Linked DNA regions of Homo sapiens. The protein of the gene in region 3 purifies or fractionates together with the protein of the main gene of each other region. This does not show direct contact. Each region holds a gene or a part of one and is shown on either strand. Other genes may lie near its edges.

What was found. The genes of interacting proteins can lie anywhere in the genome.
Region 1: the proteins of MARVELD2 (region 3) and STK38 purify together in Homo sapiens (affinity purification with mass spectrometry; 2 studies listed by BioGRID and IntAct, with this or other methods). This does not show direct contact.
Region 2: the proteins of MARVELD2 (region 3) and SLC36A4 fractionate together in Homo sapiens (co-fractionation; one large-scale study listed by BioGRID). This does not show direct contact.
Region 4: the proteins of MARVELD2 (region 3) and GAP43 purify together in Homo sapiens (affinity purification with mass spectrometry; 2 studies listed by BioGRID and IntAct, with this or other methods). This does not show direct contact.

Annotation. Positions count from the first base shown.
Region 1 is NC_000006.12:36,498,980-36,502,479, reverse strand, and holds part of STK38 (serine/threonine-protein kinase 38), read left to right. Parts: intron 1-2,489; coding exon 2,490-2,607; intron 2,608-3,500. UniProt on the Homo sapiens protein: Serine/threonine-protein kinase that acts as a negative regulator of MAP3K1/2 signaling. Converts MAP3K2 from its phosphorylated form to its non-phosphorylated form and inhibits autophosphorylation of MAP3K2.
Region 2 is NC_000011.10:93,191,492-93,194,991, reverse strand, and holds part of SLC36A4 (neutral amino acid uniporter 4), read left to right. Parts: intron 1-3,500.
Region 3 is NC_000005.10:69,420,772-69,426,427, forward strand, and holds part of MARVELD2 (MARVEL domain-containing protein 2), read left to right. Parts: intron 1-3,829; coding exon 3,830-3,865; intron 3,866-5,656. UniProt on the Homo sapiens protein: Plays a role in the formation of tricellular tight junctions and of epithelial barriers.
Region 4 is NC_000003.12:115,630,010-115,633,509, forward strand, and holds part of GAP43 (neuromodulin), read left to right. Parts: intron 1-3,500. UniProt on the Homo sapiens protein: This protein is associated with nerve growth. It is a major component of the motile 'growth cones' that form the tips of elongating axons. Plays a role in axonal and dendritic filopodia induction.

The DNA of each region.
Region 1 (3,500 bases), on a different chromosome or scaffold from region 3:
AATTCATAAAGAATTCCTATGAATCAATAAGAAAAAGGACAACACAACTTAAAAAATACTAATGGACAAAGGATCTGAATAGGAATTCATAATAAAAACCTGGATGGCTAATTAAAATATGAATATGTGCTCAACCCTACTTGAAATAAAGTAAATGCAAATTAAAACAAGATCCCAGCCATGCTGGCACATCCCTACAGTCCCAGCTACTCAGGAGGCTGAGGCAGGAGAATCCCTTGAGGCCAGGATTTCAAGGCTGCAGTGAGCTATGATCATACCACTGCACTCCAGCCCGGGTGACAGAGCAAGACCCCATCTCTTAAAAAGAAAAAAAAAGAGATCCCATTTCATATTCATCAGATTGGTAAAAATAAAAAAAAATCTGACAAAGCCAAGTCTTGATGAGATATGGAGTACCAGAAGCTAATCCCCACCGGGGTTGGTTTAAATAGGGACTAACTACTTTGGAGGACATGGAAGATACCTCAAGTTTAAATGCTTATAACCCAAGGCTCAGCAATATTCTAGTTAATACTCTAGAGGAATGCTTGCACAGTGCCCAAGAAGGTATTAAAAGAATGTTTATTCAGGTGTTATTTGTCATAGTGAAATACTGGAAGCACTGTAACTGTCCATTACAGAAGAACGGATAAAAACTATTGTGACTAATTTATATAACAGTATAGCATACGGCAGAGAAATGAGTGAACTAGAGCTACATGAATAAATCTCAAAACGAATGTTAAGACAAACAAGGCCGGTTGCGGTGGCTCACTCCTGTAATCCCAGTACTTTGGGAGGCTGAGGTGGGTGGATCACTTGAGGTCAGGAGTTTGTGACCAGCCTGGCCAATGTGGTGAAACCCTGTCTCTACTAAAAATACAAAAAATTAGCCAGGTGTGGTTCATCTCAAAAAAAAAAAAAAAGACAAATGATCTGAGACAAATATGGCAAATTATTAATCTTTTTAATGTGGGTAATGGGTCTGTATTGTATTGTCTGTTCCTTTTTTCTGTATGTTTGTAATATTTCATAATACATGTTTTAAAAACAATACAACTGTAATTTAAAAAATTATATAATATTTAAAGCACCTAGATCAGAGCCTTACACATGGAAGCCCTCAAATGTTAAGTACATTAGGAGGCTTTGATTGTACTTTCTCCTCTTATTTTGCAGTCCTGGTATGTTAGAGTAGAATACTGGAATGCAGAAAATGTTTCTCTTGGTCAGGTGCGGTGGCTCACACCTGTAATCCCAGCACTTTGGGAGGCTGAGGTGGGAGGATCACTTGAGCCAGGAGTTAAAGACCAGTCTGGGCAAGATGGCAAAACCCCATCTCTACAAAAAAATTAAAAAATTAGCCAGGTGTGGTGGCATGCACCTGTGGTCCTAGCTACTATGGTGGCTGAGGTGGGAGGATCTCTTGAGCCTAGGAGTTTGAGGTGAGCCATCATCGTGCCACTGCACTCCAGCCTGGGCCCACAAAGGGAGACCCCCATTTCTTAGAAAAAGAAAACATTCCTCCAAGAACTATATACAAAAACAATTAAGTTTGGTAAATAGGTATTTATAAATGTTTAAGTTATAGGATATAACTTTAGCTTTTGATCATATAGCTTCCCTTTATGATTGTGTCAAATCAAAGAATGTGTATCATAGAAAGAGGGATGGTTTGGAGTAAGATACTATAATTCCTATTTTTTTTTTTTTTTTTTTTTGAGACAGAGTCTCACTCTGTCGCCAGGCTGGAGTGCAGTGGCACGATCTCGGCTCACTGCAACCTCCGCCTCCCGGGTTCAAGCGATTCTCCTGCCTCAGCCTCCCGAGAAGCTAGGACTACAGGTGCACACCACCACGCCCAGCTAATTTTTGTATTTTTAGTAGAGACGGGTTTTCACCATGTTGGCCAGGATGGTCTCCATCTCTTGACCTCGTGATCCGCCCACCTCAGCCTCTCAAAGTGCTGGGATTACAGGCGTGAACCACCACTCCCGGCCAGATATTTAATTTTTAAACTGGGCTCTACCACCTAACTAGTTCTGCGGTCTCAGGCAAAGCCATTTTGAGCATCAAATTGTATCTGCAAAGTTAAGCTAATAAGGTCCTCCTTGGAAAAGTTTTGTCAGGATTAAATGGACTCATGTATATGAAGTTATATATATATATAAAACTCATGTAATATATATATTAAGTACAGAGCCTAGTACTTAATGGGTGCTCAGTAAATTGTAATACCAGTTATTATGACACAGATGCCTTCGCCCTAGTGACTCATAGTTAAGGGTCTCCTGCCTCATGAACAAAGCTTTATTGTTCATTTTGGAAAGTGCTTTGGGAAATCGAGCTTGCCATTAAGCTACTGGGCAGTCCTGCTTATTTAGCTTGGGGGTAGCTTCTGATGTTACTCATAGCCTTTGGTTTCTAGAACAGAACTCTGGGCACCTCCTGCCTGGCTGGGCCTCGCTGATGTGTGGTCCATGTTTCAGGCCTTCTCCACAGTAGGCACTCCTGACTACATTGCTCCTGAGGTGTTCATGCAGACCGGGTACAACAAGCTCTGTGATTGGTGGTCGCTTGGGGTGATCATGTATGAGATGCTCATCGGTAAGTTGCATGGTTTCAGAGGACTTTTTCTGTGCATCCATGACAGACTTTTACATTGATACCAGCCTCTGTTTCAATTGGCAGTGATCTAAGTGATTTCCCTACTTGTCTTTCAAAGTGAATTGTTTTAGACAGATGACACCTCTTTCAGTAAGATGTATCCCACTCCATTCTTGGGCTTACTGGCATCCTGCAATTGCTTTGCTGATCATTTTTTATGTTTTTCTTTCTCTTATACCTTCATCTTCTCCATCTAGAAGCTCTTTTAGTCACTAGCATTTATTAAATATCCGTTGTATGCAGAGCACTTCAACTGGGCATTGCCTCACTTTCCTAATTTGCCGCCCCCTTCCTCTGTCAAAGCCTTCAAATCATGGGACCCTCTGGCCTCTCTCCCTCTTATTGTATTGGTGTGTCTCTGTATTTATGGGACGCATCTGTGGGGGTGGTCATATGCCAGTGAGCACTAGATTAAGTATATCCTTGGTGGTTCCGGGTGAGTCTATCTGGCTGCTTTGGCTTCAGGAACATGGGAACGATGCCTGTGGAGGTGGGCGTACACCGTCTGGAGGGAAGATGGGGTGATAGGGTGTGTGCGTGTTTGTCTTCTTGCCTGTAGTTCTCAAAAAGAGGCATGGTGGTCATTTTTAAAATCTATGCTTTTTTCTTATTCAAGTTATTTGGTACTTTACCCATATAAGGGTATTTCTGGAATGATATTGTTTCATCCTTTCATTTCTTCTTTGGGCATGGTGATTCCCACACCTGCAACTCTATTTATGTCCTCCTTTCTTTTCCCAGCTCTACCTATTAGCTGACTTCCTAGTGGTACCAGAGGCATGATTTCACTTTGGGTCTGGGAGTTTGGGGGAAAATGAAAAATAGGTTTAGGT
Region 2 (3,500 bases), on a different chromosome or scaffold from region 3:
TAAATTGTTATACAGCAATAGATAACTAATACAAATGGGTAAAGTTGCAGGAATAGCAGGCTTGCTGGTGAAGACCAGTTCAGTTTGGGGCATGTTAAGTTTGAGATGTCCATTAGATATCAAAGTGCACATGTCAAGTAGGCAATTGGATTTTATGTCTAGCATTAGTGAAAGGTCTGGTCTGGAAATGTAAATTTGGATGTTATCAGCATATAGATAGTATTTAAAGCTAGGAGACAGAATGAGAACATAATGAGAGTTGTTTGTGTGTATGTGTGTGTGCCTGTGAACATGTACTCTAAAATGTTAACAGTAGTAATTTGTGGGTAATGAAGTAATTTTTAATTTCAAAAATGTTTATATATTTTCTGATTTTCTACAATGACCAAGTGTTATTTAATTTAAAAAAAGAATTTCCAAAAATGGGTATTTATGTAAAAAGCACTGGTAGAGATGTTAAGATACAGGTTCTCGTAAGGTATGTAAATAGCTTAAGGTCTGCACTTTATTTCATATCCCATAGGGACCTCTGGAAAGTTTCTTGCTGTGTATATTTCTTCCACCTCAGAAATGAACAAAATAGTAATGGTTCTTATTTTATATCTAGAGAGTACTTTATTCGGGTGACAATATTATGTTATTTTAAAAAATGAAACTATTTCTACTTTCTTTTAGTTTTTCTATTGCCAAAATACAAGTGATTTTTAAATTTTATTATAAAAGTAATGCAAGTTTGCTACAACTACTTTTTTAAATTTTTTTTATTTTTATATTTTTTTACATTTTCCAGAGAAGGAAAAGCACACTAATGATCCAATTGTCCGTCTATATTCTGGTAAACTTGCTCACATTTTGATATATTTACTTCCCCTTATTTCTACTTAATTTTTAAAAACATGATTGTAATCATATTGCAGATATTCAACTTTTCCCACTTAGCATATGATACACTTTTCCCTGTTTTACTCAGACCTCACAACCATAATTTAATGTCAGTGCAATATTTCATAAAGTAACTGTGCCTTAGTTAATTTAGTAATTTCCTGATTGCTGTACATTTAGGTTGTTTCGCAATTTTCAACGTCAGTAATGTTTTAATGAACATTCTTGTGCAAAATCCTCTTCTGCATACACTAGCTTGCCAGAAGTAGAATTACTAGGTGAAAGAAATAAACATTTTTAAGACTTTAATACATAGGATATTGCTAAATTAATGTGATTTTAGAACATTCTGTCTACAACTTGAAATTTATATTGGTTTTAGGCTTGAAAATTGAGATTCAAACAATTTTCTTGGCAAATAAGAGAGCATACAAGCACTGCCTAATTTAAGAATGTTCCATTTGTATGCACCATTAATGTATCCCTATGGTGTACTATGTAATACACCTAACATCAGATATATGGTGTATAATAAATGTTGTATAATATTGAATCAAGCTAGTGTTTCTTATTTATATATAATTTCTCCACTCATAAATAGATAGCACACCTATTCCTTAATAGTGTTTTAGTTTATAAGGCATCATTAATTTTTACAATAATAATCACAGCATTTTCCAGAGCTGCCCAATTTAGTACTTAGCCAAAAATTACAGCAAAACATTGGGCGAAAATAATAGACATTATGTGTAATGTAAATTGGGTTCTATAATCTTTAATTCCTTTGGGGTGTCAGTTTTTATTTCATATATTCTTAACTCTGTTTACTATGTTGAGTTGTTAAGTGTTTATCTCCCTCACTAATCTCTATTTCCTTCTGGCAGATATAACATGTTTTGCCCATCTTTGCATACTCAATCTTACAGCACAGTTTATAGGTCATAAATGCTCAGAAGTATTAATTATTATCAAATTATTTCTAATTTTTGTCAAAGATTGGCATTTAAAAATCCCATAGAGCTTAATATGCTTCTAATATATGGAGGAAGACAAAAAAAGTGTTTATTGATTACTTATTTATGTGCCAGGGTCTAGGCTGTGTGCTTCATATACATTATTTCATTCTTCATATTCTATCTATGTAACATATATGTAATATATATAATAACTTCATATACATTATCATTTGTGATGACATCACAAAACTCCTATGTAATAGAAGTTATTATTTTCATTGTACATATGAGAAAATAGGCCCAGAGGAATCTGGTTAAAATGTAAATCAGATGATATCACTCCAAGGCCCAAAACTCTCTAGTGCTGTGCTGTTCAGTGCAATAGCCTTTAGTTATATGGTTATTGAGCGCTTGAAACGTGGTGTGTTCAAACTGAAATGTGCTGTAAGTGTAAAATACATGCTGCATTTCAAAGACTTAGTATGAAAAATAGAATCCAAAATATCTTAATTTTTTACTGTTGATTACATGTTGAAATGATATTTTAGGTAAGTTAAATAAAATATTAAAATTAATTTCACCTGTTCCTTTTTTCTTTGTAAAAAAGTTACTACAAAAAATTTGTGTAACGTAAATTTACATTTATATTACATTGCATTCCTACTGGAAGGCACTGCTCTAGTGGCTTTTCATGTCACGTAGAATGGTCTACAAGGCTATGTGCAGTCTGCTTTCTGTCACCTCTGATCTGATCTCATCCCCTACTCCTCCCCCGCACTCATTCCTCTCTGGCTACCCTGCCCTCCTTGTTCCTTAAGCACACCAGACTCCCATCCTGAGGGCCTTTGCCTTTGTTCCTGCTGCCTAGATTACTCTCCCTCCCACAGGATATCCACGCTGCTCACTCCTGCTCCTTCGTCAGGACTTCTTTGAAATGCCACTTTCTCAGTGAGGCCTCCTTTGGCTGTCTCTCCAAAATTAGAGGCTGTCTCAATCCTTGTGTTTCTCCTTAGCACTTAACACTATCCAACTTATCTCTGTTTTACTTATTATCTTATTGTCTCTTTCCTTCACTAAAATTTGAGCTCCATGAAGGCAGGATTTTTTTTTGAGTTTTAGTAATTATTCTCAGCATCTAATGGTGTTTAACATATATTAGGGCCTCATTAATATTTGTGAAATTGAATAGGAAACCATTGTAACCTATTTAATTGAATACATTCAGTTATGAGGCAGAGAGCTTTTGTGTTGAGGGACTATTAGTGGATATTAGTGAGGATGACATTCTATTAATAGGGGTTTTTGAGAAGGGCCAGAAACCAGTAAATTTTGTGAGAGGGCTTATTCCTCTTTGCATCAGCTTCCTTAATGTGTTCGCCTATAATGCTGTTGTGCATAAAAGCCATCATAGTCTTTGACATCCTTTTCACTAGCAAACTAAAAGGTAAGCCATGAGAGTCTATTGTGCCAGGAAAAACAACTCCTGGTAACCACTTTCATATATATGTCTTTCAGGGAATTCCACAGGCAGTTCCCAGAGAGAGTATGAATGCTAATTCTTTACCTCATACCTCACTGCTTTTCATCTGACATCACAGTGTGAAATAACCAAGGGGAGGATATGGTGGTAGTGATGGGTGCCATCTTTCTTGAATCTGAGCC
Region 3 (5,656 bases):
GATGTGTAATATATAGTTTGTTGGCTGCATTATTATGTCTGTCTGAAGCTTAAGGGAAAGATACAGCTACCGAATTTTTGCAAAGAAGAAGAGTGTACTCAGTAAAATAAGTGTCTCATCATTAAGTTTGAGAACAATCTTAATTCTTTAATAAAAGCTCCTAATTTTTCATTTAAATGTTACAATTTACTTTCTCCCAGTGAGTTGAATAAAGCCAAATAAGAATGTGGTAAACCATGTTTGATTTTTTTTAAGTATTGAGAGATTGAATTGTAATGAACATACTCTGAAAACTTGCCCAGTGGTTTTGATAATTTGTCTTTATTTGAGGAAGACGTATGGTCCAAAATGAGAATGGAAGTCCTACATTGTTTTTATATTTCTAGAACTTAATAGGATAATAATGAGAATAAATAATAATGAGAACAATAAGAAGAATAAAATAATAATAACTGAAGGATGAGATAAAAGCCCTACCTAAAATTATTTTGGTTGAACAGTAGCAAATGTTAGAGTATGTTCCACTGGCTACATTATTCTCTGAAGTAAGTTGATATTTTGCCTTCTTCCAAGGATATGTGTATAGTAGACTCTCCTATGCCACTGAAATTTTCAGTATTTACCTTAAAATTTTTTGTAATTTTAAGTTAACTATATTATGAATTTTTGCTTTTCCACTTTTCCTAAGACTTCTTAGATACTATACAATTGCACATGGTATATATTGGGCAAAACTATAAATAAAAATTAAATCCTGTCCTTATAACAGCACACACTGACATATGTATTTTGTTTTTAATCTTTTGCTTGAATCTGATGCATAGCAACAAATAGCGCTTTGGTTTTAAAATTTTTTTAATTTTTTTTTTCTTTAGAGATGAGTATTTGCCATGTTGTCCAGGCTGGTCTCAAACTCCTGGACTCAAGCAATCCACCTGCCTTGGCATCCCAAAGTGCTGGGATTACAGGTGTGAGCCACCATGCCTGGCCCGTTTTTTGGTTTTTTTAATTTTCTTTTCTTTCTTTTTTTTTTTTTTTTTGAGACAGAGTCTCACTCTGTTGCCAGAGTGCAGTGGCACTGTTGCGGGAAGTCAGGGACCCCAAACAGAGGGACCAGCTGAAGCCATGGCAGAAGAACATAAATTGTGAAGATTTCATGGACATTTATTAATTCCCCAAATTAATACTTTTATAATTTCTTATGCCTGTCTTTACTGCAGTCTCTGAACATAAATTGTGAAGATTTCATGGACACTTATCACTTCCCCAATCAATACCCTTGTGATTTCCTATGCCTGTCTTTAATCTCTTAATCCCGTCATCTTCATAAACTGAGGAGGATGTATGTTGCCTCAGGACCGTGTGATGATTGAGTTAACTGCACAAATTGTTTGTAGAGCATGTGTGTTTGAACAATATGAAATCTGGGCACCTTGAAAAAAGAACAGGATAACAGCAATGTTCAGGGAACAAGGGAGATAACCTTAAACTCTGGCTGCCTGTGAGCTGGGCGGAACAGAGCCATATTTCTCTTCTTTCAAAAGCAAATAGGAGAAATATCGCTGAATTCTTTTTCTCAGCAAGGAGCATCCCTGAGAAAGAGAATGCATCCCTGAGGGTAGGCCTCTGAAATGGCCGCTTTGGGGATGGCTGTCTTTTACAATCATAGATAAGGGATGAAATAAGCCCTGGTCTCCTGTAGTGCTCCCAGGCTTATTAGGACGAGGAAATTCCCGCCTAATAAATTTTGGTCAGACCAGTTGTCTGCTCTCAAACCCTGTCTCCTGATAAGATGTTATCAGTGACAATGCATGCCTGAAACTTCATTAGCAATTTTAATTTTGCCCCGTCCTGTGGCCTGTGATCTCGCCCTGCCTCCATTTGCCTTGTGATATTTTATTACCTTGTAAAGCATGTGATCTCTGTGACCCACACCCTATTCATACACTCCCTCCCCTTTTGAAAATCACTAATAAAAACTTGCTGGTTTTACGGCTCGGGGGCATCACGGAACCTGCCGACATGTGATGTCTCCCCTGCACACCCAGCTTTAAAATTTCTCTCTTTTGTACTCTTTCCCTTTATTTCTCAGACTGGCCGACACTTAGGGAATATAGAAAAGAACCTATGTGAAATATCGGGGATGAATTTCCCCCAATATCTGGCACCAGGCTGGAGTGCAGTGGCACAATCTCTGCTCACTATAACCTCCGCTTCCCAGGTTCAAGTGATCCTTCTGCCTCAGCCCCCCTAGTAGCTGGGATTACAGGCACATGCCACCATGCCCAGCTAATTTTTGTATTTAGTAGAGACAGGGTTTTGCCATGTTGGCCAGGCTGATCTTGAGCTCCTGACCTCTGGTGATCCATCTGCCTTGGCCTCCCAGAGTGATAGGATTACAGGCGTGAGCCACCACACCCAGCCTTAGATTTTCTTTTTACACCTAGTGGAATGGGAAACAAATCGTTTTGTTGTCGTTGTTGTTGTTGTTGATGGTTTGTTTTGAGGAAGGGTCTAACTCTGTCACCCAGCCTGCAATACGGTGGCACAATCATGGCTCACTCCAGCTTTGACCTCCCAGGCTCAAGCAATCTTCCCACCTCAGCCTCCCAGGTAGCTGGGACTGCAGGCATACACCACCACACCTGGCTATTTTTCAATATTTTTTGTAGAGACAGGGTATCACTATGTTACCCAGGCTGGTCTCGAACTTCTGGGCTCAAGCAATCCTCCTGCCTCAGCCTCCCAAAGTGTTGGGATTATAAGTATAAGCCACTGTGCTTGATGGAAAAAAATAGTTTTATAACAAGTACCTACATGTTATACAAAGGACTTTGACATGTGTCCATGTGATCTCTCTCTCTATATATTTTAAATTTTTTGTAGAGACGGGGTCTTGCTATGTTGCTCAGGCTGGTCTCAAACTCCTGGCCTCAAGCAATCCTCTCCCCTCAGCCTCCCAAAGTGCTGGGATTACAGGCATAAGCCACCATGCCTAGCTTGATTGTCACAAAATAATTTATCTTGCTAGAACTCTACATAGATTCAAGTTATTTCTAAAAATGTGTCTTAGCATTTTAAGCATATTTCTTACATTTTTGTTTTTTTATGTAACCTTCACATGTATTAAATTTTTGTTTCTTAAAGTTACAATTTATTTCTTAAATGTACATCTCTGTGTACAAAGTAAAAAATGTTAATTCTAATCAGTATGAAATCCAGATAGTGAAACACATACTTCCTCATAAATTTATGCTAGTTGCATAAGTTATTAAATCTTAATATTTAAAAATTCTATATGAATAGAATGATCAACATAATACTTTTATTTCTTTTTCCTTTCTCAACAAAAACTTATGTCTATGAGACTTTTCATAATGCCTAATTAGACTTCAGTCACCTGATGTTGAAAGTTGTGCCTGTCTGTACGTTGCTATAACTTCCTAAAGGTTAGAAGATGTAATGGCCTAGGGCTTTTTTCTATTAATTTTATAGAGTAATTGTCCTAACTCTTTAATCATGCAAAGTAATGGGAGGCAAGAATAAATAAAATTTGAGGGTAATTCAGAGTGGTTTATCTAACAGTTTCCACCATCTCCGTATTCCCTACTCCTCTCTATGCCCTGATTGACAGGGAATTACAGTTATCCCTCTTCTCAGTTCTCCACTGGCCCTTCAAAACCTAGGCAAAAAAAGGATGAGAAACACCCGTCAAGTAGAGGATCAACCTCTTAAAATTGAGGTTGGGCTATAAATGCAAATGGATGAAAATATTTGCAAAGTAGCTTCACATGCCTTTGAAAAACTATTTGAACTCTTTTTGTTCCAGATAAATGAGCCATCATTGTCATCGAAAAGGAAAATGGTAAGAATAAAGTTTACTTCATATTATGCTTTAGATTTGTTAATACTTTTCTCTTAGGTCTGTTTATCTACATAGTAGTATCGTACATCTGTGAAATGTAGCTATTGGCCAGGTGTGGTGGCTCACACCTGTAATCCCAGCACTTTGGGAGGCTGAGGAGGGCGGAGCACTTGAGACCAGAATTTCAAGACCAGCCTGGCCAAAATGGTGAAACCCTGTCTCTACCAAAAATACAAAAATTACCTGCACGTGGTGGCACACGCCTGTAATCCCAGCTACTCTGGAGGCTGAGGCACGAGAACCACTTGAATCTGGGAGGTGAAGGTTTCAGTGAGCCAAGATCACGTCACTGCACTCCAGCCTGGGTGACAGAGTGAGACTGTTTAAAAAAAGAAAAGAAAAGAAAGTGTAGCTATTACATGCAGCCATAAAAAATGATGAATTCATGTCCTTTGTAGGGACATGGATGAAATTGGAAATCATCATTCTCAGTAAACTATCGCAAGAACAAAAAACCAAACACCACATATTCTCACTCATAGGTGGGAATTGAACAATGAGATCACATGGACACAGGAAGGGGATTATCACACTCTGGGGACTGTGGTGGGGTCGGGGGAGCGGGGAGGGATAGCATTGGGAGATATACCTAATGCTAGATGACGAGTTAGTGGGTGCAGCGCACCAGCATGGCACATGTATACATATGTGACTAACCTGCACAATGTGCACATGTTCCCTAAAACTTAAAGTATAATAAAAAAATATATATATATTAAAAAAAAAAAAAGAAATTGTAGCTGTTACATCGAGTTCATATTAGGACTTTGAGCTTTTTTCCAGATACTAAAAGGACCAAATTAAACAATCATATCTATAGCTGCTTTTAATTTTGTTAGATGAAAATTTATGCAAGTAAACAAACCAACATATGTTTGAAATTTAATTATTTTTTAAATGAAAGTGATTCTCTGAAACTTTCTTCACTTGTATTTAAAGTTCTGTGCTGTTCTTTGTATCCTTCTCACCTTGCTTTCAGATGCCAAATTTTTTACTACACTCACAGGACAGTTAAAAAAGAAATTAATAATAATAATACTTTTTTTTTTTTTTTGAGATGGAGTCTCTGTCGCCCAGGCTGGAGTGCAGTGGCGCTATCTCGGCTCACTGCAAGCTCCGCCTCCCAGGTTCACACCATTCTCCTGCCTCAGCCTCCCGAGTAGCTGGGACTACAGGTGCCCACCACCGCGGCCGGCTAATTTTTTGTATTTTTAGTGGAGACGGGGTTTCACCATGTTAGCTAGTTTCACGAGGTCAGGATGTTCTCGATCTCCTGACCTCGTGATCCGCCCGCCTCGGCCTCCCAAAGTGCTGGGATTATGGGTGTGAGCCAGCATGCCCGGCCAATAATACTTTTTTTTAAAGATGCCAAATTTTGTAGTGTCAGGGAATTTCTATTCCACAATTTACCAACTGTGTGGCAGCAGACAAATTATTTAACCTTTCTATGCCTGCATTTCTTCATCTGTGAGATTGCAATAATAATAATTCATACCTCGCAAGTTTGCTGAGAGGACTCAGTGAGATGCTGTTATCATTATTTACATATATGTAATAATTTATTTTAATAATCATAATTTTACCCTCATTGAAAATTTTACCCTCATTTTTTGAGATACTGGACATTATTATTATTATTATTATTATTATTATTTTTAGACAGAGTCTTGCTCTGTCGCCCAGGCTGGAGTGCAGTGGTGCGATCTCAGCTCACTGCAACCTTCGCCTCCC
Region 4 (3,500 bases), on a different chromosome or scaffold from region 3:
GCTGGCACTATCTCCCCTCCATGTCCTCCTCGTCCAACAACCAACATTACAGCCCCACCCTCTCTGGTTACCACAACTCTGGATCTTCACATGCCCTTACTTTGAGGCTCCAAGTACTTGCACTCACTGCTTTGCTTCACAACTCTTACAAATAGACCGTAAATCAATCTGTGTGATCCATGAAATAAATCAACTAAGAGTAGCAATATTTTTTTCTTTAAATGCATGTAGTGCTGGCCTGTGCTTAGGTGTGTGTGCTCAAAAATTAATTTTACCTTCATTTGGATTTCTTTTCTTCCGTCTGAAGTATCCACATAATAATATTTCACAAAGATAAATCATGATTGGAGGTATAGGGAGGGTGAATGGTAAGTAGTCCCTCAAATGACTGTTAAAGGAATGTTAGTACCAGATGAATTGGATTTTTCTTAGGTTTAAATAGACTGAAGGGACTTGGGTTCTGAAGTAGTCCTATTGTGCCCAGCATGGAACAAATTGCAACCACTGTTTTCCATGAAAACACTCTTGCCAGACGCTAAGTAGTGTATTTTCTCTGACTGAATTGGCATGTCCTTGAGAACAGCAGAAAGACTAAATAATTTGTAAGTGAAGTTTGTCTTCAACTGGTAAGGTTCAGTAGTATTTGTCAATTGCCATACCCTCACTTGATATCTTGCTTACTGCTCCCAATCTCTTTGGCATTGAGTTTTTCTATTATTTTCTCCTCCTGTCAGACCCAGGTAGAGTTTTTCTGATTAAGTAATACCAGTTCATGTTAGTGTTTAGTGGGTGAGGCTATGGAAGGAGAACTTTAAGAAAAAGTGTGTTTCTTCAAACTTTCTAAAAAGTACTTATAGACAAAACAGGTATTTTAAGCTATGTCTGGCACATCTTAGATTCTCAATAAATATTTGTTGAAGTAATAAATGTAGGAAGGGAAGGAGCATCATGATGGGTCATTAGGGGAGATGTTCTGGGACAGACGACCATTTCTGATTACTTATTCAGCGTGGGCTTTGTGTAAATGCAAGCTCAGCTCTATTGGTCCCCCTCACAAGGTGGATGTAGTCAAAGTTCAATTCCCTCTCCTGTCTGCTTAGATCAGAGAGACACACTTGCAGTCATTTCATTCAGGTTTAGCACGGGAATGTGATCTTCCAGATTTCCTATCCTTAATTATTTACAGATCTTATTTTCTTAGATGTTGTTTGTTTAATGTCCTGTTTCATGTCTTTGTAGTGGAATAAATCCTTTCCCTGGGTTCTAGACCTGGTTCTGCCAATTGCTTGTCATGTGATGTTGGGTAAGTAATTTAACCTTTCTGAGCCTAGTATATTCATCTGTGTAGTGGGTACATAAAAAGAACCTCCAAATCCTGTCTTACCTTTTCTTCTTAAAATTAGGTTGGTGTGAGTCTCAAATAAAGAGATAACAATAAAAGTGTTTTGCAAACAATGTGTTTTTGAAATGTAAGTATTATTAATTAAGGAATTTCATAGATCGAGCACTAAAGTATTCATGGCTCTAAGCAAACAAGAAGTACTCTTGCTCTCTGTATAGAATACACACATTCCCCATTTCCACCTGATTCCCATACTCTACAGAGTAAATTTTTTGTTTGTTTGTTTTTTGAGATGGAGTCTTGCTGCCATCCAGACTGGAGTGCAGTGGTGTGATCTCGACTCACTGCAACCTCCGCCTCCCAGGTTCAAGCAATTCTCCTGTCTCAGCCTCTCAAGTAGCTGGGACTACAGTTGCATGCCACCACGCCTGGCTCACTTTTGAATTTTTAGTAGAGACAAGGTTTCACCATGTTGCCCAGGCTGGTCTTGAACTGCTGAGCTCAAGTGATCCACCCACCTCGGCCTCTCAAAGTGTTGGGATTACAGGCATGAGCCGGGCACGGCTCAGAGTAAATATTAACCATGCTAATGGATGGGAACATAGTATCTGTTTATTATTTCCTTTGAAAACTTCAGTGACAGAATTTAGATAAGCCAATATTCAAAGTGTTACAAGACCCAAGGATCACTTCAAATGCATTAGAAATACCCACTGTTTTTCTTTTTATCTTTTTCTGTTTTAGTCTTTTCCTCACATTTAGATCTCTTTTCTTCTCCATTTGCTAAGTTTGCTGCCTCCCCCTCTATACCCACCCCCACTTCACCTCCAAACTGGGTTCTCAGCACTAAGATGGCCAGGCATGCTGTGCTCACATCCATCACATGAGGGCCCAGTCAGGCAGAAGAGTGGAGAGAAAATGCAGGGCTGGTTGGGAGACTGAAAATGTAGATACAGTTTGGTTGGGGGAAGCACATTTCAAAGATGATCCCTTGATCACCATTTCCACAACCTGACTTCAGGGCTCCTCAATACAACAGGAATAAACCTTGATTAGAGAGGTGATATGTAATCCTAAACCTTTCCAAACTCAACTCTAAATGCCATAATCTTTTGAGCCCTCAAGATCTCCACAAAGGACATTATAGTTCTTCTGTGTCCCTGGGCATGACTGGGATAAATTACCACTTTAAAACAACAAAATTTAACAGATTCTCCTATAAGCACAGAATTCTACAAACCAAAGAAACTGAGTTTTTAAACATATGGATAACATTTAGAAATACTTTAAAGTATAATAACTGGATCAAGTTAGTCTAAGAAATCCTATTTTTCCTAGAAGCCAAAAGTTTAGCATAAAAAAATTAGTATTGTACATATTTTCCCAAAATACTTTTATACAAAGGGCTCATGTAGACTGCAATAGAAAGGTGTGTTAACTAGAAATTTGAAAATAAACTGGTGTCCAGAAGGAAATAATGATTTCTTTAATTATATTTATATTTGGTTAATGGTATCACCTTTAAACTTTCACTCTAGCTACATCCCTTTCTCCCTGTTTCTTTCTTCTTCTGCCTCAGAACACACTACTTCTATTATATATGCGTTTTTTGATTGGGAACAAGTATCCAAAACCAACTTTAAGAGTCTATAAAAGGAATTTATTGGAAAAAGAAAAAAAGCAGCGATCATATGAAATTAGTAAGTTGAACAACGAAGCCTATGGGAACCAGGGTAGAATTTCAATAACAGGAATTCATAAACTCTTTCTGGGGCCCTGCATCAAAAAAGACTCAGTTATTAATAATCCCAGCTACAATTCAAATTTTAAATGATGAGAGAGAAAGAGAGAGATAAGAGAGAGACAGACAAAGGGAGAGAGGGACAGAGGGAGAGAGACAGAGAGAGAGAGAATGAGGATGAATGAATTTTATTGGTCCTGCTTGGGTCACCTAGCAACTGCCACAGGGCCGATATCTCTGACTGGAAAAAGGGCTGGGTGACATAGGTTAGAGACAATTTTGGTAAGCCCACACTTGTAAATCTAGTGAGAGGGTAAGTTGGTTGAGAATTAGTCTCCTGCATATATACCTATATGTCCACATAGTCCACATGTGGGTTAGCTACCCGAGTCAGAAGGAACTTATCTCAAGTGTGGT